2 separate regions of the Homo sapiens genome follow, and region 1 is linked to region 2. The links come from fine-mapping of genetic effects on gene expression. A gene starts in region 2. The other region holds a variant in brackets. All regions are shown on one strand. Distances are between the middles of the regions.

Region 1 (5,378 bases), 200 kb after region 2:
AGTTACTTCTGTGGCATATGACACTATGATAACATATTTGATTTCCAGAAATTTCATATAATTTTTAGAATACTCATTAAAAAAATTTTTTTTTTGAGACGGAGTCTCACTCTGTCACCCAGGCTGGAGTGCAGTGGTGCGATCCCAGTTCACTGCAAGCTCCGCCTCCCGGGTTCCTGCCATTCTCCTGCCTCAGCCTCCTGAGTAGCTGGGACTACAGGTGCCTGCCACCAAGCCCGGCTAATTTTGTTTTTGCATTTTTAGTAGAGATGGGGTTTCACCGTGTTAGCCAGGATGGTCTCGATCTCCTGACCTTGTGATCCGCCCACCTCGGCCTCCCAAAGTGCTGGGATGACAGGCGTGAGCCATCGCACCCAGCCTAGAATACTCATATTATTAACATTCCCATAAATATTATTTAGAGGAGGTTTAGCATCACTTATCACTTATTTGAAAATGCTTTCTATATAATTTAACTTATCAAATAAAGTGGCTTTTCCATTCAGCTTCTGTTTGTTAACTGGATTACTGAGTTCTTGGTGTAGCCCATTCATAAATAGGGCCAAAAAAGTATAGTCTTATGTATGTTGAAAAAGGTCCTTAGGTAATTCCAGTACTTCCAGCTGAACATCATTGATTTAGTTTTAAGTTCTACCTATTACAACAAGAGTTCTCCATCCTTGTTACATGTTAGTAGTGTCAGGGAAGACTTAAAAATTACCAATGCCTGGGTCCCTCTCCAGACCTTTAAACTGGAACTAATGGGTGGGGCTTGAGCATCCACTTTTAAAAATGTTTTCCAGTGATTCCAATGTGTAGCTCTATTTCCCATCAGATTTCTCTGATTTCTTGTGGCATTCAATTTTTTCTATTTTGGTATCATGATTATTTTCAGGTCTCATTTCCTGTCTTAGGCTTTATGTCTCCTGGCGTAGGGACCTTGCCTTCATCATTTCTGTATCTTTTTTAAACACATGAACTGGTCATCAGGAAAAGATCTCAACCACACATAGGTTGTGTTCTGAGTCTCAGGTTCACATGTTAATCCTAAAGTCTTAGTTCTCCACGAGGTCAGATGTTGCTTGTGATGAAGGGTGTGGTTAAGTCTGCAGTGCAGATGGTAGAGGGGATTTCACTCTGTTTTCAGACATAGCATTGGAACTAAGAATTTTATATCTATATGGGTGAAGGGACAGGGGTGTGTAGGAAGACAGTTCTAATTAGGATGGAGGAATTATACTAGGAAGTAGCGGTAAAGGAAGTGAGAAGGCTTAGTAAATAGAAGAAATGTGAACTTATCAAAGTGGCTAGAGTAGACCCCTGGAGATTCTTGATTAAGTGAATTAACTAGATTTTAGAAAGGTAATGAGGCAGTCATATGCAAGGAAGATTTCAAAGTCTGGAGACAAGAAGTCAAGCAATACTTTGAGAAGTGGTTGAGCTTTATGGGAATGGAGAGAATTACACTATTGAGAGATGTTAAAAATAATGAAGAGGGTTTCACCATGTGAAATTGTGTTTTTCATTTGAATCTGAGAAACAAATGAGCAGAGAGAGAGGCTGGAGATAATTATGTCTAAAAGACAGTGGGGTACAGGGAGCATAAAGGCCAGGGAGAAAGGGAACTGCAGGAATTAGTGCTGAGAAGCAGGAGTTAGTGGAGGAAGGAGGAGATCCAGTCCCAGATACAGGCAAATAAGTCTTTTCCCTCTCCCAAGCATGGCAGTTAGCCCTGCAGGAACCAGGATAAGAGGAAAGGTCATCATACCTGCCAGTCTTCCTGAAATACAGAAATGACATCACGGCTGCTATAATGGATTAAGGCCAGGAAGATGTCCTGTTCCTGAAGGAGCTGTCATGGAAAAAAAAGAAAAGAAGGAATGAAGATGATGTTATTTTACATGGGGGAGCCTCAGGAACAAGCATGTAACATGAGGTACTCTATAATTGTTTCTTCAAGGACTACGTTATTTCTGTTGGAAAATTGATAGGAGATGATTATATTCTTGCAGTTTTTTTTTCCCTCTCACCCTGTTTCTCAGTTGGTGATCAGTCCTCTGTCAATTCTCTACTGTGCTCAGATATTTGGAAGGCTTTCAGATGTGAGAAAGGCTGATTGCTATTTTCTATGTCATTAGAACTTGCCACCTTTGCACCTTTTCATGGTTGCATCTTTTTCTCAGTGTCTCTGTTGTGGCAGTCATGAATGAGACCCTGCCAGGTCTCCATGGCAGAGACTTGATTGACAGAAGGCCCAGGTCAGTGCATTTCAAATTCACCACCTCCTTTGCACAGAAAGCTTCTTTCCTACAGGCTCCCAGCAAGGGCGTGAAAGCAAGTCTAGTTCTCTGAGGCTCTCTTTAACTCTAATGGGTGACTGG[T/C]TGGAGGATTCCCCATCAGCCTTGCAAAAACTCTTATAATTGAATTGGTACCTAAAACTTCTTTCTCTTTCTTTTTCACAGGAATCAGCTCTGCATAGTGGTCTGTGGGTTCTCCCGTACTACCTTCATGCCTGCCCCACATTCCCTCACAGGTGTCTTCCCTGATAAGTTATCTTGTATGTCTAATCCCATCTTGGATGCATCTCAGTCAGTAAAAACTAACATACCAGGCTTGATTCTTTGCACTTAGCTTTTTTTCTTTCTCTCCCACAAGTAGTCAGTAACCATGTCCTAGTGTTTTATGTGTTACCTCTTTTTCCATATATATATATATGGAAAAAGGAAGGTACTGTTGAGGGGCACTTCCTATGTGCCAGGCCCTGTGCTAAATACTTTCCCTGTATCTCATTTAATCCACACAATAACCCTGTGAGGTAGACATTATTTCCATTTTGCCGATGAAAAGACAGAAGCTTAGAGTGGTGTAAAACTTTCCTGGTGTCATATGGCTAGTGACAGGTGGATCTGAGATTTGATTCTAGGACTATTTGACCTCTAGGCTAATGATGATGGTAGTCATATAGCAGCTGACATTGGTTCCACTGTGTGTGGCATCTCGTTTTATTGACTGCATTAAACCTTTAAAAGAAAGGTATGAAGAAAGCACTCTTATTGCAGTTTTCAGGTGAGGTATCAGAGGTTCAGAGAAATTGAGTCTTGTGCAAGAAATTTATAACTGTAAACTCTTACATTAAAAAAGAAGAAAGATCTCAGGTCAACAACCTACTTTAATACTTCAGGATATGAAAGAAGAACAAACTAAACCCAAGCACAGTGAATGAGGGAAAAATAAGGATTAGAGTGGATATAAATAAAATGGAGAATGGAAAAAGAATAGAGGAAATTAATGAAACCAAAAGTTGATTCTTCAAAATAAAATCAACAAAATTGACAACCATTAACTAGATTGACTAAGAAAAAAAGAGAAAAGTTTAAAATTCCTAAAATCAGAAATGAAAATGGACTCTGAGCATGGTGGGTCATGTTTTAATCCTAGCACTTTGGGAAGTCACAGCAGAAGGATTTCTTGAGACCAGGTGTTTGGACCAGCATAGGTAACCTGGGGAGACCCTGTCTCTACAAAAAAATAAAAAAGCCAATTAGCTGCGCATGGTGACATGCACCTGTAGTCCTAGCATCTTGGGAGGCTGAAGAAGGAGAATTACTTGAGCCCAGGAGGTTGAGGCTGCAGTGAGCCATAATCACACCACTGTATTCCATCCTGGGCTGGCCTACAGAGTGAGAGCCTGTCTCTCTCTCTTCAACAACAACAACCAAAAAAAAAAAAAAAAAAAGAAAAAAGAAAAATGAAGCGATTACTACCAATTCTAATAAACTAATGATTATGAAAGTACTATAAATAATTGTATGCCAATAAATTGGATAACCTAGATGAAGTAGACAAACCCCTAGAAACACACAAAAATATGAATGGAACTATAATCAGTAATAAGATTGAATCAATAAAACATTTGATGAAATTCAATATTTTTTCATAATAAAAACTTTCTAAGAAGGGAAGGAAACCACCTCAACGTAAAGGCAATATGTGAAAAACCCAATGCTAACATCATACTCAACGGAGAAAGACTGAAAGCTTTCCCTGTATGAGCAGGAACAAGACAAGGGTGCCTGCTTTTGACACTTTTATTCAACATAGTATTGAAAGGTCTAGTCAGAAAAATTAGGCAAGAATTTAAAAAAAGACGTTAAAATTGGAAGGAAGGAGTAAAATTATTTCTGTTTACAGATAACTTGAACTTATATGTAGAAAATCCTAAAGATGGAACAAACCTATTAGAATTAATAAATAAATTCAGTAATGTTGCACAATACAAAATCAACATTCAAACATCAGTTGTATTTCAATACACTAACCATGAACAATCTGAAGGGAAATTAAGAAAAAAAATTTCAATTTATATTAACATCAAAAAGAATAAAATATTTAGGAATGAGTTTAACCAAAGAGGTAAAATGATTATACCTGAAATCTACAAAATATGGCTGAAAGAAATGAAAGATGACATCAATAAATTGAAAGACATTTTGTTTTCATGAATTGGAAGACTCAATATTGTTAGGAGGACAGTGCTACCTGACGTGAGCTGCAGATTCAATAAAATTCCTATCAGAATCTCAGTGACATTTTTGCAGTAAAAAAAAATCTGTCCTAAAATTTATATTGCATCTCATGACTCTAAATAGACACACAGCTTTGAAGAGGAAGAATGAAGCTGGAGGACTCACACTTCCTGATTTCAGCATTTACTACAAAGCCCCAGTAATCAATACACTGTGGTACTGGCATAAAGGAGGACATAGAAATTAATGAAATATAATAACCCAGAAAGAAATGCTTGCATATATGGCCAAATGATTTTCATCGAGTGTGCCAAGATCGTTCAATGGGGAAGGGACCGTTTTCTCACCAAATGATATTGGGAAAGGTGGATATCCAAGGGCAAGAACAGTGGAACCTTTACCTAACACCATGTACAAAAAGTAACCCACAATAGATCAAAGATCTAAATGTAAGGGCAAAAACTATTCAACTCTTAGAAGAAAAGCTTCATGATACTGGATTTCACAATGATTTCCTGGTTGTAACAACAAAAGCATAGGCAACAAATAAAATGGATAAATCGGACTTCATAAAAATCAAAACCTTTTATATATCAAAGAACACTATCAAGAAAGTAAAAAGCAACCCACGAAATGATAAAAATATTTGCAAATTATATGTGTGATAAGAAATTAATTTCCAGAATACATGAAAAGCTACAAGTCAACAACAGCAAACATCCAAAAACCCAATTAAAAAATGAACAAAGGATTAAAATGGAGTTTTCTCCAAGGAAGATATACAAATATCAAATAAGCCCATGCAAAGTTCCTCAGCATCAGGAATACTTGGAGATATGCAAATCAAAACCA
Region 2 (5,378 bases):
CAGGCTGAGACTAAGGTGAAGGATGAGGCTCCATCCTTGCCCAAATGAGGCTCTAGTGCCTGAACCCTGGCTGGTTACCAGCTCCAGGAGCCACAGCCCTCGGATAGCTCAAATTCTTGTTCCTAGTCAGCCCTGCCCAGGAGGCCACAATCTAGCCCTGGCCCAGGCTCCTCAGGGTCACCAGGAGTTGAGAACCTTGGGATAGTGTTTTGGAGCAGGGGATTCCCAGGGCTGAGCTTGTCTGTGAGGATCCCAGAAGGCCCTTCAGGCCAGACCCTGACTGAGTCCTACTGGGTCTTTCTTAGGGACATGTTCACCAGGAGGGTCCCGGGGGGCTAGATTGAGACTGGTCTCCCCTCGATAAGTTACCCACATCAGATTGTCCTTCCTCTGAAGCAAATGTCTGCAGGATCAGGACTCCAGAGTAAGACATTCGGTATTTTGATGTCTGTCCCATAGTGTGTCCTGCACTAGATGCTCAAACCTTAACATGGGGTATAATGCAGAGGAGGACACAGGCACAGCCCAGGCCTGACAATCCCATGTGTGGGAAGTAGAACTAACCCCCCAACACCCAGAGGTCATGGGGAAATACTCACGGTATACATGGAACTGTCCAGTTGCTTCTTCATTCACAAGATCTGACTTTATGACTTGTAGGGTGTAGAATCCTGTGTCATTCTGGGTGACGTTCTGGATCAGCAGGGATGCATTGGGGTATATTGTCTCTCGACCGCTGTTTGCGGGCCCTGGGGTAGCTTGTTGAGTTCCTATTGCATATCCTACAATTTGACGGTTGCCATCCACTCTTTCCCCTTTGTACCAGCTGTAGCCAAAAAGTTGCTGGGGCAGATTGTGGACAAGGAGAAGAACCTCCTTCCCCTCTGCAACATTGAATGGCATGGATTCAGTAGTGAGCTGGGCAGTGGTGGGCGGGTTCCAGAAGGTTAGAAGTGAGGCTAGGAGAGAGGAGAGAGCATCAGTCAATATTGGGACCTATGCATTAGGGTAGAAAAATGGGGCCTTGGGTCCTGAGCAGGTGTCTTCACCCCTCCACCTTGGAGTGTGTGTGTGTGTGTGTGTGTGTGTGTGTGTGTGTGTGTGTGTCCTACTGGGTCAAGGTCAGCAGTGTGACTCCCATTCCCTTAGTGCCTCTGACCTTGTCATTTCTCTGGAATGCCCTTCCCCAGGGATCCGCATGGCTCCCTCCCCACTGCCCTCAGATCTTGATCACATCAGGGTGCTCTTGGGAGATCCTTTCCCTGACACCTCCCCTAGAGACCCTGGGTATTCCCTTTCTGACCTTTTTCTGCTCTGTTCCCTCCAGGGCTCTTGTCAACACCTGACCTCACATTCTAGATCTCTTTGCTTGTCTGTCTTCCCCACCCATGAGAGCGTGAGCTCCGTGAGGGCAGGGATTTGTGTGATGTTGGTTGCACCCCAGTGCCTGGGATAGGCTGCAGACTCCTGTGGATGAGTTAGTGAGCATTCCCAGGGCTCTTCATGTCCTGGGGTTTATTTGCCAATATCTGAGGTTGGTGGCTCAGGGCTCTGTTTAATGCCCCTTTTAAAATGTTTTCCTTAATTGTCACGCTGACTTAAATTGTGATTATTGTCAGCAGTTTTTGAAATTTATTGCTCATTGATGATTCAGTTGGAAAAGGTAAAAAATGGGAGATTGTTTATTCACTAACAGTTTCAGATCACTGAGACTTTCCTTTTATGATCTCTATCCCTTTCATGTCCTCTCTCCTATTTGGCTCCAAGAGAAGCCCTCTGTCCCCTCTTAGAGCTCCATCCTCCCCAGAGGACCCTAGCCATTCTCTGTGCGCCCTCTTTCCGCCCCTTCCCAGGGTGTCCTCCCCTCACCTGTGAGCAGAAGCCCCTGCCAGGGTACACGCACTCTGTGAAGTGGGGCTGAGAGGTGCCCCATGGTGTCTCCTGCTGGCCCTGTCTTCACCTGTGGAGGAGAGCTTGGGCTCCAGGAACGCTTCGAGCACGGCTGCTCTGTCACCTCTGCTGTTTTCCACTCTCTGTGCTGAGCCTCCTCCCTGGGGCCCAGAGCTTTGTCTGATCATGTGTGCTGGGGCGGGGTTTGTCCAGGAAGCTCTGTTTCCTCTCCTCTCATTCCTACCTTTGTCCTTACTTTCTCTTTCCTTTCTGTCTACATTTTGGTTTCCCAGACCACACTTTGAGAATCAAGGCTGATGAGACCTCTGTCCCCATCAGGGGAGGAGGATCCCCCCTCTCCAGCACTGACCTCTATTGTGTCCTGGCTATGGGTCTGTCAGCAGCACACAGAGAACCCTGGCATATCCAAATGTGGTAATTATTTTCTTTGCAACACAGTGAGCTGCCAGGTCTCCCCATGCTCTTCAGTGTGCTGGGAAGGTAGGAAGACACCCAGCAGGAAGGTGACAGAGGTGGCTCTGGGGGATGGAAAGGGGCTCACTGGGGGATGACTGGGGAGGGACCAGCCCTCTGTCTCTAGTGTCACCAGCCTGGCCTCTAACCCAGGGACAGAGACCCAAGTCCAGGGGTCTCAGGTGGAGCTGCAGCTCCCGGATATGGAGGGGGAGGTGTCCTGTGTGTCCTGGGAAGAGAGGACTGTGATAGAGGGAGGTGGGTGGCTCTGGGCTCTACTGTCCTTGGGGAAGACTTCAGGGGGACCCTCCCTCCCTTGAGCTGAGGCTCAAGGCCTGTCCATGTTCTCCCTGACCATCCTGGGTGGTCTCTGTCCTCTGCGAGGCTGATTGTCCTGTGGTCACCGCACCTTCCCCACAGGTGGTGCCAGGAGGGAATGGGGAGCTGCACAGGGACCCCTCACAGAACAGGGTCCTCAGAGGACCCAGGAAGGGACAGAGCAGGTACATGGGAGGGCCTGGAAGGGTGTTTTGGAGCAAGGGATGGAAAGTGGGCTCTACCTTCACCTCCTTAGCAAAGCCAGGTTCATGACCAGGGGAATGTTTCCTGAGTGTTGTCTGTGTGCAATGTCTCCCCCTGGAGGGCAAGACAAGGCCTGCAGCCTTGTCAAGGGCTGCCCCAGGGATGCTGACCAGGGTCTACATGATGTGAGCTGGCCCTGACCCCTGGGCAGATGTGGGCTCTGACCTCCAGGCTTCAAGGTCAAGTCACCCCAGGTCCTGTTCACTGCGGGTCCCCAGGCTGCCCAGCTCCATGCGGTGCAGGATGAGCCCAGGGAGAGGACGTGAGTTGTCCAGAGGACTTCTGTCAAGATTGGAGAGAACTGTCCACCAGGGGGATGGGCTGCCTTAGAAGGAGCCATCTGTCCCAGAGGTTTGAAAAACAAAAGCAAAAACAAAACAAAACAAAAAAACAAAGGCCCAGTGAGGTGCCTTTGGGGGCTTGAGAATGAAATCCTGTCACATGTGGCAACATGAATGGAAGTGGGCTAGGAACAGAAAGTTAAACATCACATGTTCTTACTAATATGTGGAACCTAAAAACAGTTGATCTCATGGAAGGAAAAAGTAGAACAGAGCATACCAGAGGCTGGGAAGGGTAGAGGAAGGGAGGGACAGGGAAAGATGTGTTAAAGGATATAAAATTACAGCTAGATAGGCCGGGCACAGTGGCTCATGCCTGTAATCCCAGCACTTTGGGAGGCCGAGGCGGGTGGATCATGAGGTCAAGAGATTGAGACCATCCTGGCCAACATGGTGAAACCCCGTCTCTACTAAAAATACAAAAAATTAGCCAGGTGTGGTCGTGGGCACCTGTAGTCCCAGCTACTTGGAGGCTGAGGCAGGAGAATCACTGGAACCCGGGAGGCAGAGGTTGCAATGAGCCAAGATTGCACCATTGCACTTCAGTGTGGCGACAGAGTGAGACTCCATCTTAAAAAAAAATAAGGCCAGGCGCGGTGGCTCACGCCTGTAATCCCAGCACTTTGGGAGGCCGAGGCGGGTGGATCATGAGGTCAGGAGATCGAGACCATCCTGGCTAACAAGGTGAAACCCCGTCTCTACTAAAAATACAAAAAATTAGCCGGGCGCGGTGGCGGGCGCCTGTAGTCCCAGCTACTCGGGAGGCTGAGGCAGGAGAATGGCGTGAACCTGGGAAGCGGAGCTTGCAGTGAGCCGAGATTGCGCCACTGCAGTCCGCAGTCCGGCCTGGGCGACAGAGCGAGACTCCGTCTCAAAAAAAAAAAAAAAAAAAAATACAGCTAGATAGGAGGAGGAATAAGTTCTAATGTTCTATACCACTGTAGGATGACTACAGATTTTTTTTTTTTTTTGAGACAGGGTCTGGAGTACACTGCAGCCTCAACCTCCTGCGATCAGGTGATCTTCCTGCCTCAGTCTCCCATGTAGCTGGAACTATAGGTGCACGCCACCACGCCTGGCTAATTTTTTGTTTTATTTTTCAATTTTTTTTTAAATAAAGAGACAGGGTATCACTATGTTGCCCAGGCTGGCCTTGAACTCCTAAGCTCAAGTGATCCTCCGCCTAGGCCTCCCAAAGTTCTAGGATTACAGCCACCATGCCCAGCCAAGTGTTTTGATTTTTTTGTAGAGACTGATCTTATTATGTTGGTCAGGCTGGTCTCGAGCTCCTGGGCTCAAGCAATCCTCCCGTCTCGGCCTTCCAAAGTGCTAAGATTATAGGTGTGACCCACTGCAACCGGCCTGACTATAGTTAACAATAATATATAGTTCCAAGTAGCTAGAAAGGGGATATTGAATGTTCCTAACACAAAGAAATGCTAAATGTTTGAGATGATGGATATGCTAATCACCCTGACCTTATCACTGTACCTTATATGTATCACATCGCTATGGACCCATAAATATGTACAATTATTAGGTGTCAATTAAAAAATACAATTAAAAAAGTCATTTAGAGCTAAATCATGATGTGAAATGTTGTTTTCTTACCTCTCATCTCATGACAACACTTGGCAATGGCAAAACATCCTCAGGAGTTGTGGCTGTGTGCTTTACTGCACAGACCAGTTTGTTTGTGAGAATGTGTCACCTAATGCGAGTGAACCTACATGAGATCATCACCCTTCCTGGGGGACCTCAGAGAAGAACTGAGAACCGCTGGCTCAGGTGTGTGGAGGAGGTTGCAGGTGAGTCACTTGCTGGAAGGAAGGTCTGTGGGCCAGCTTGAGGAGGAATCCATTTGTAGAGGCCACTGGATGGGGCCACCTGGGCCTGGGTGAAGAGGGCCTGAGGGCACAGGACAGGGGGAGAGAGAAGGTGGTGCACATCGTCATGCAGGCAAGTGCTTTAAGTGTCTCTTCATTCATTCATGGCAGGCAACTCACACTTTAACATAGCAACTCAGCAAATAAAATGAGGATATTGACTGGGCGCGGTGGCTCATGCCTGTAATCCCAGCACTTTGGGAGG

The links. PIP is the estimated chance that this variant, and not a neighbour inherited with it, causes the effect.
Region 1: its variant is fine-mapped to the expression of CEACAM1 in whole blood (TOPMed, PIP 0.93).

What each region holds. Positions count from the first base shown.
Region 1 is chr19:42,722,174-42,727,551 of GRCh38, forward strand. It overlaps PSG3 (pregnancy specific beta-1-glycoprotein 3), which reads right to left. Exons shown (of 7, transcript NM_021016.4): 6 at 1,769-1,852. The coding sequence ends at 1,809. Among named protein-coding and RNA genes, the nearest start is that of PSG3, 16 kb to the right of the region's middle. The variant T/C (reference allele first, on the strand shown) is at 2,382.
Region 2 is chr19:42,526,442-42,531,819 of GRCh38, forward strand. CEACAM1 (CEA cell adhesion molecule 1) reads right to left here and starts at 2,040. Exons shown (of 9, transcript NM_001712.5): 1 at 1,870-2,040; 2 at 600-959. The coding sequence starts at 1,933. All of the region lies in intron 2 of LIPE-AS1 (LIPE antisense RNA 1), which reads left to right. RefSeq lists enhancers at 2,048-2,117, 2,340-3,202.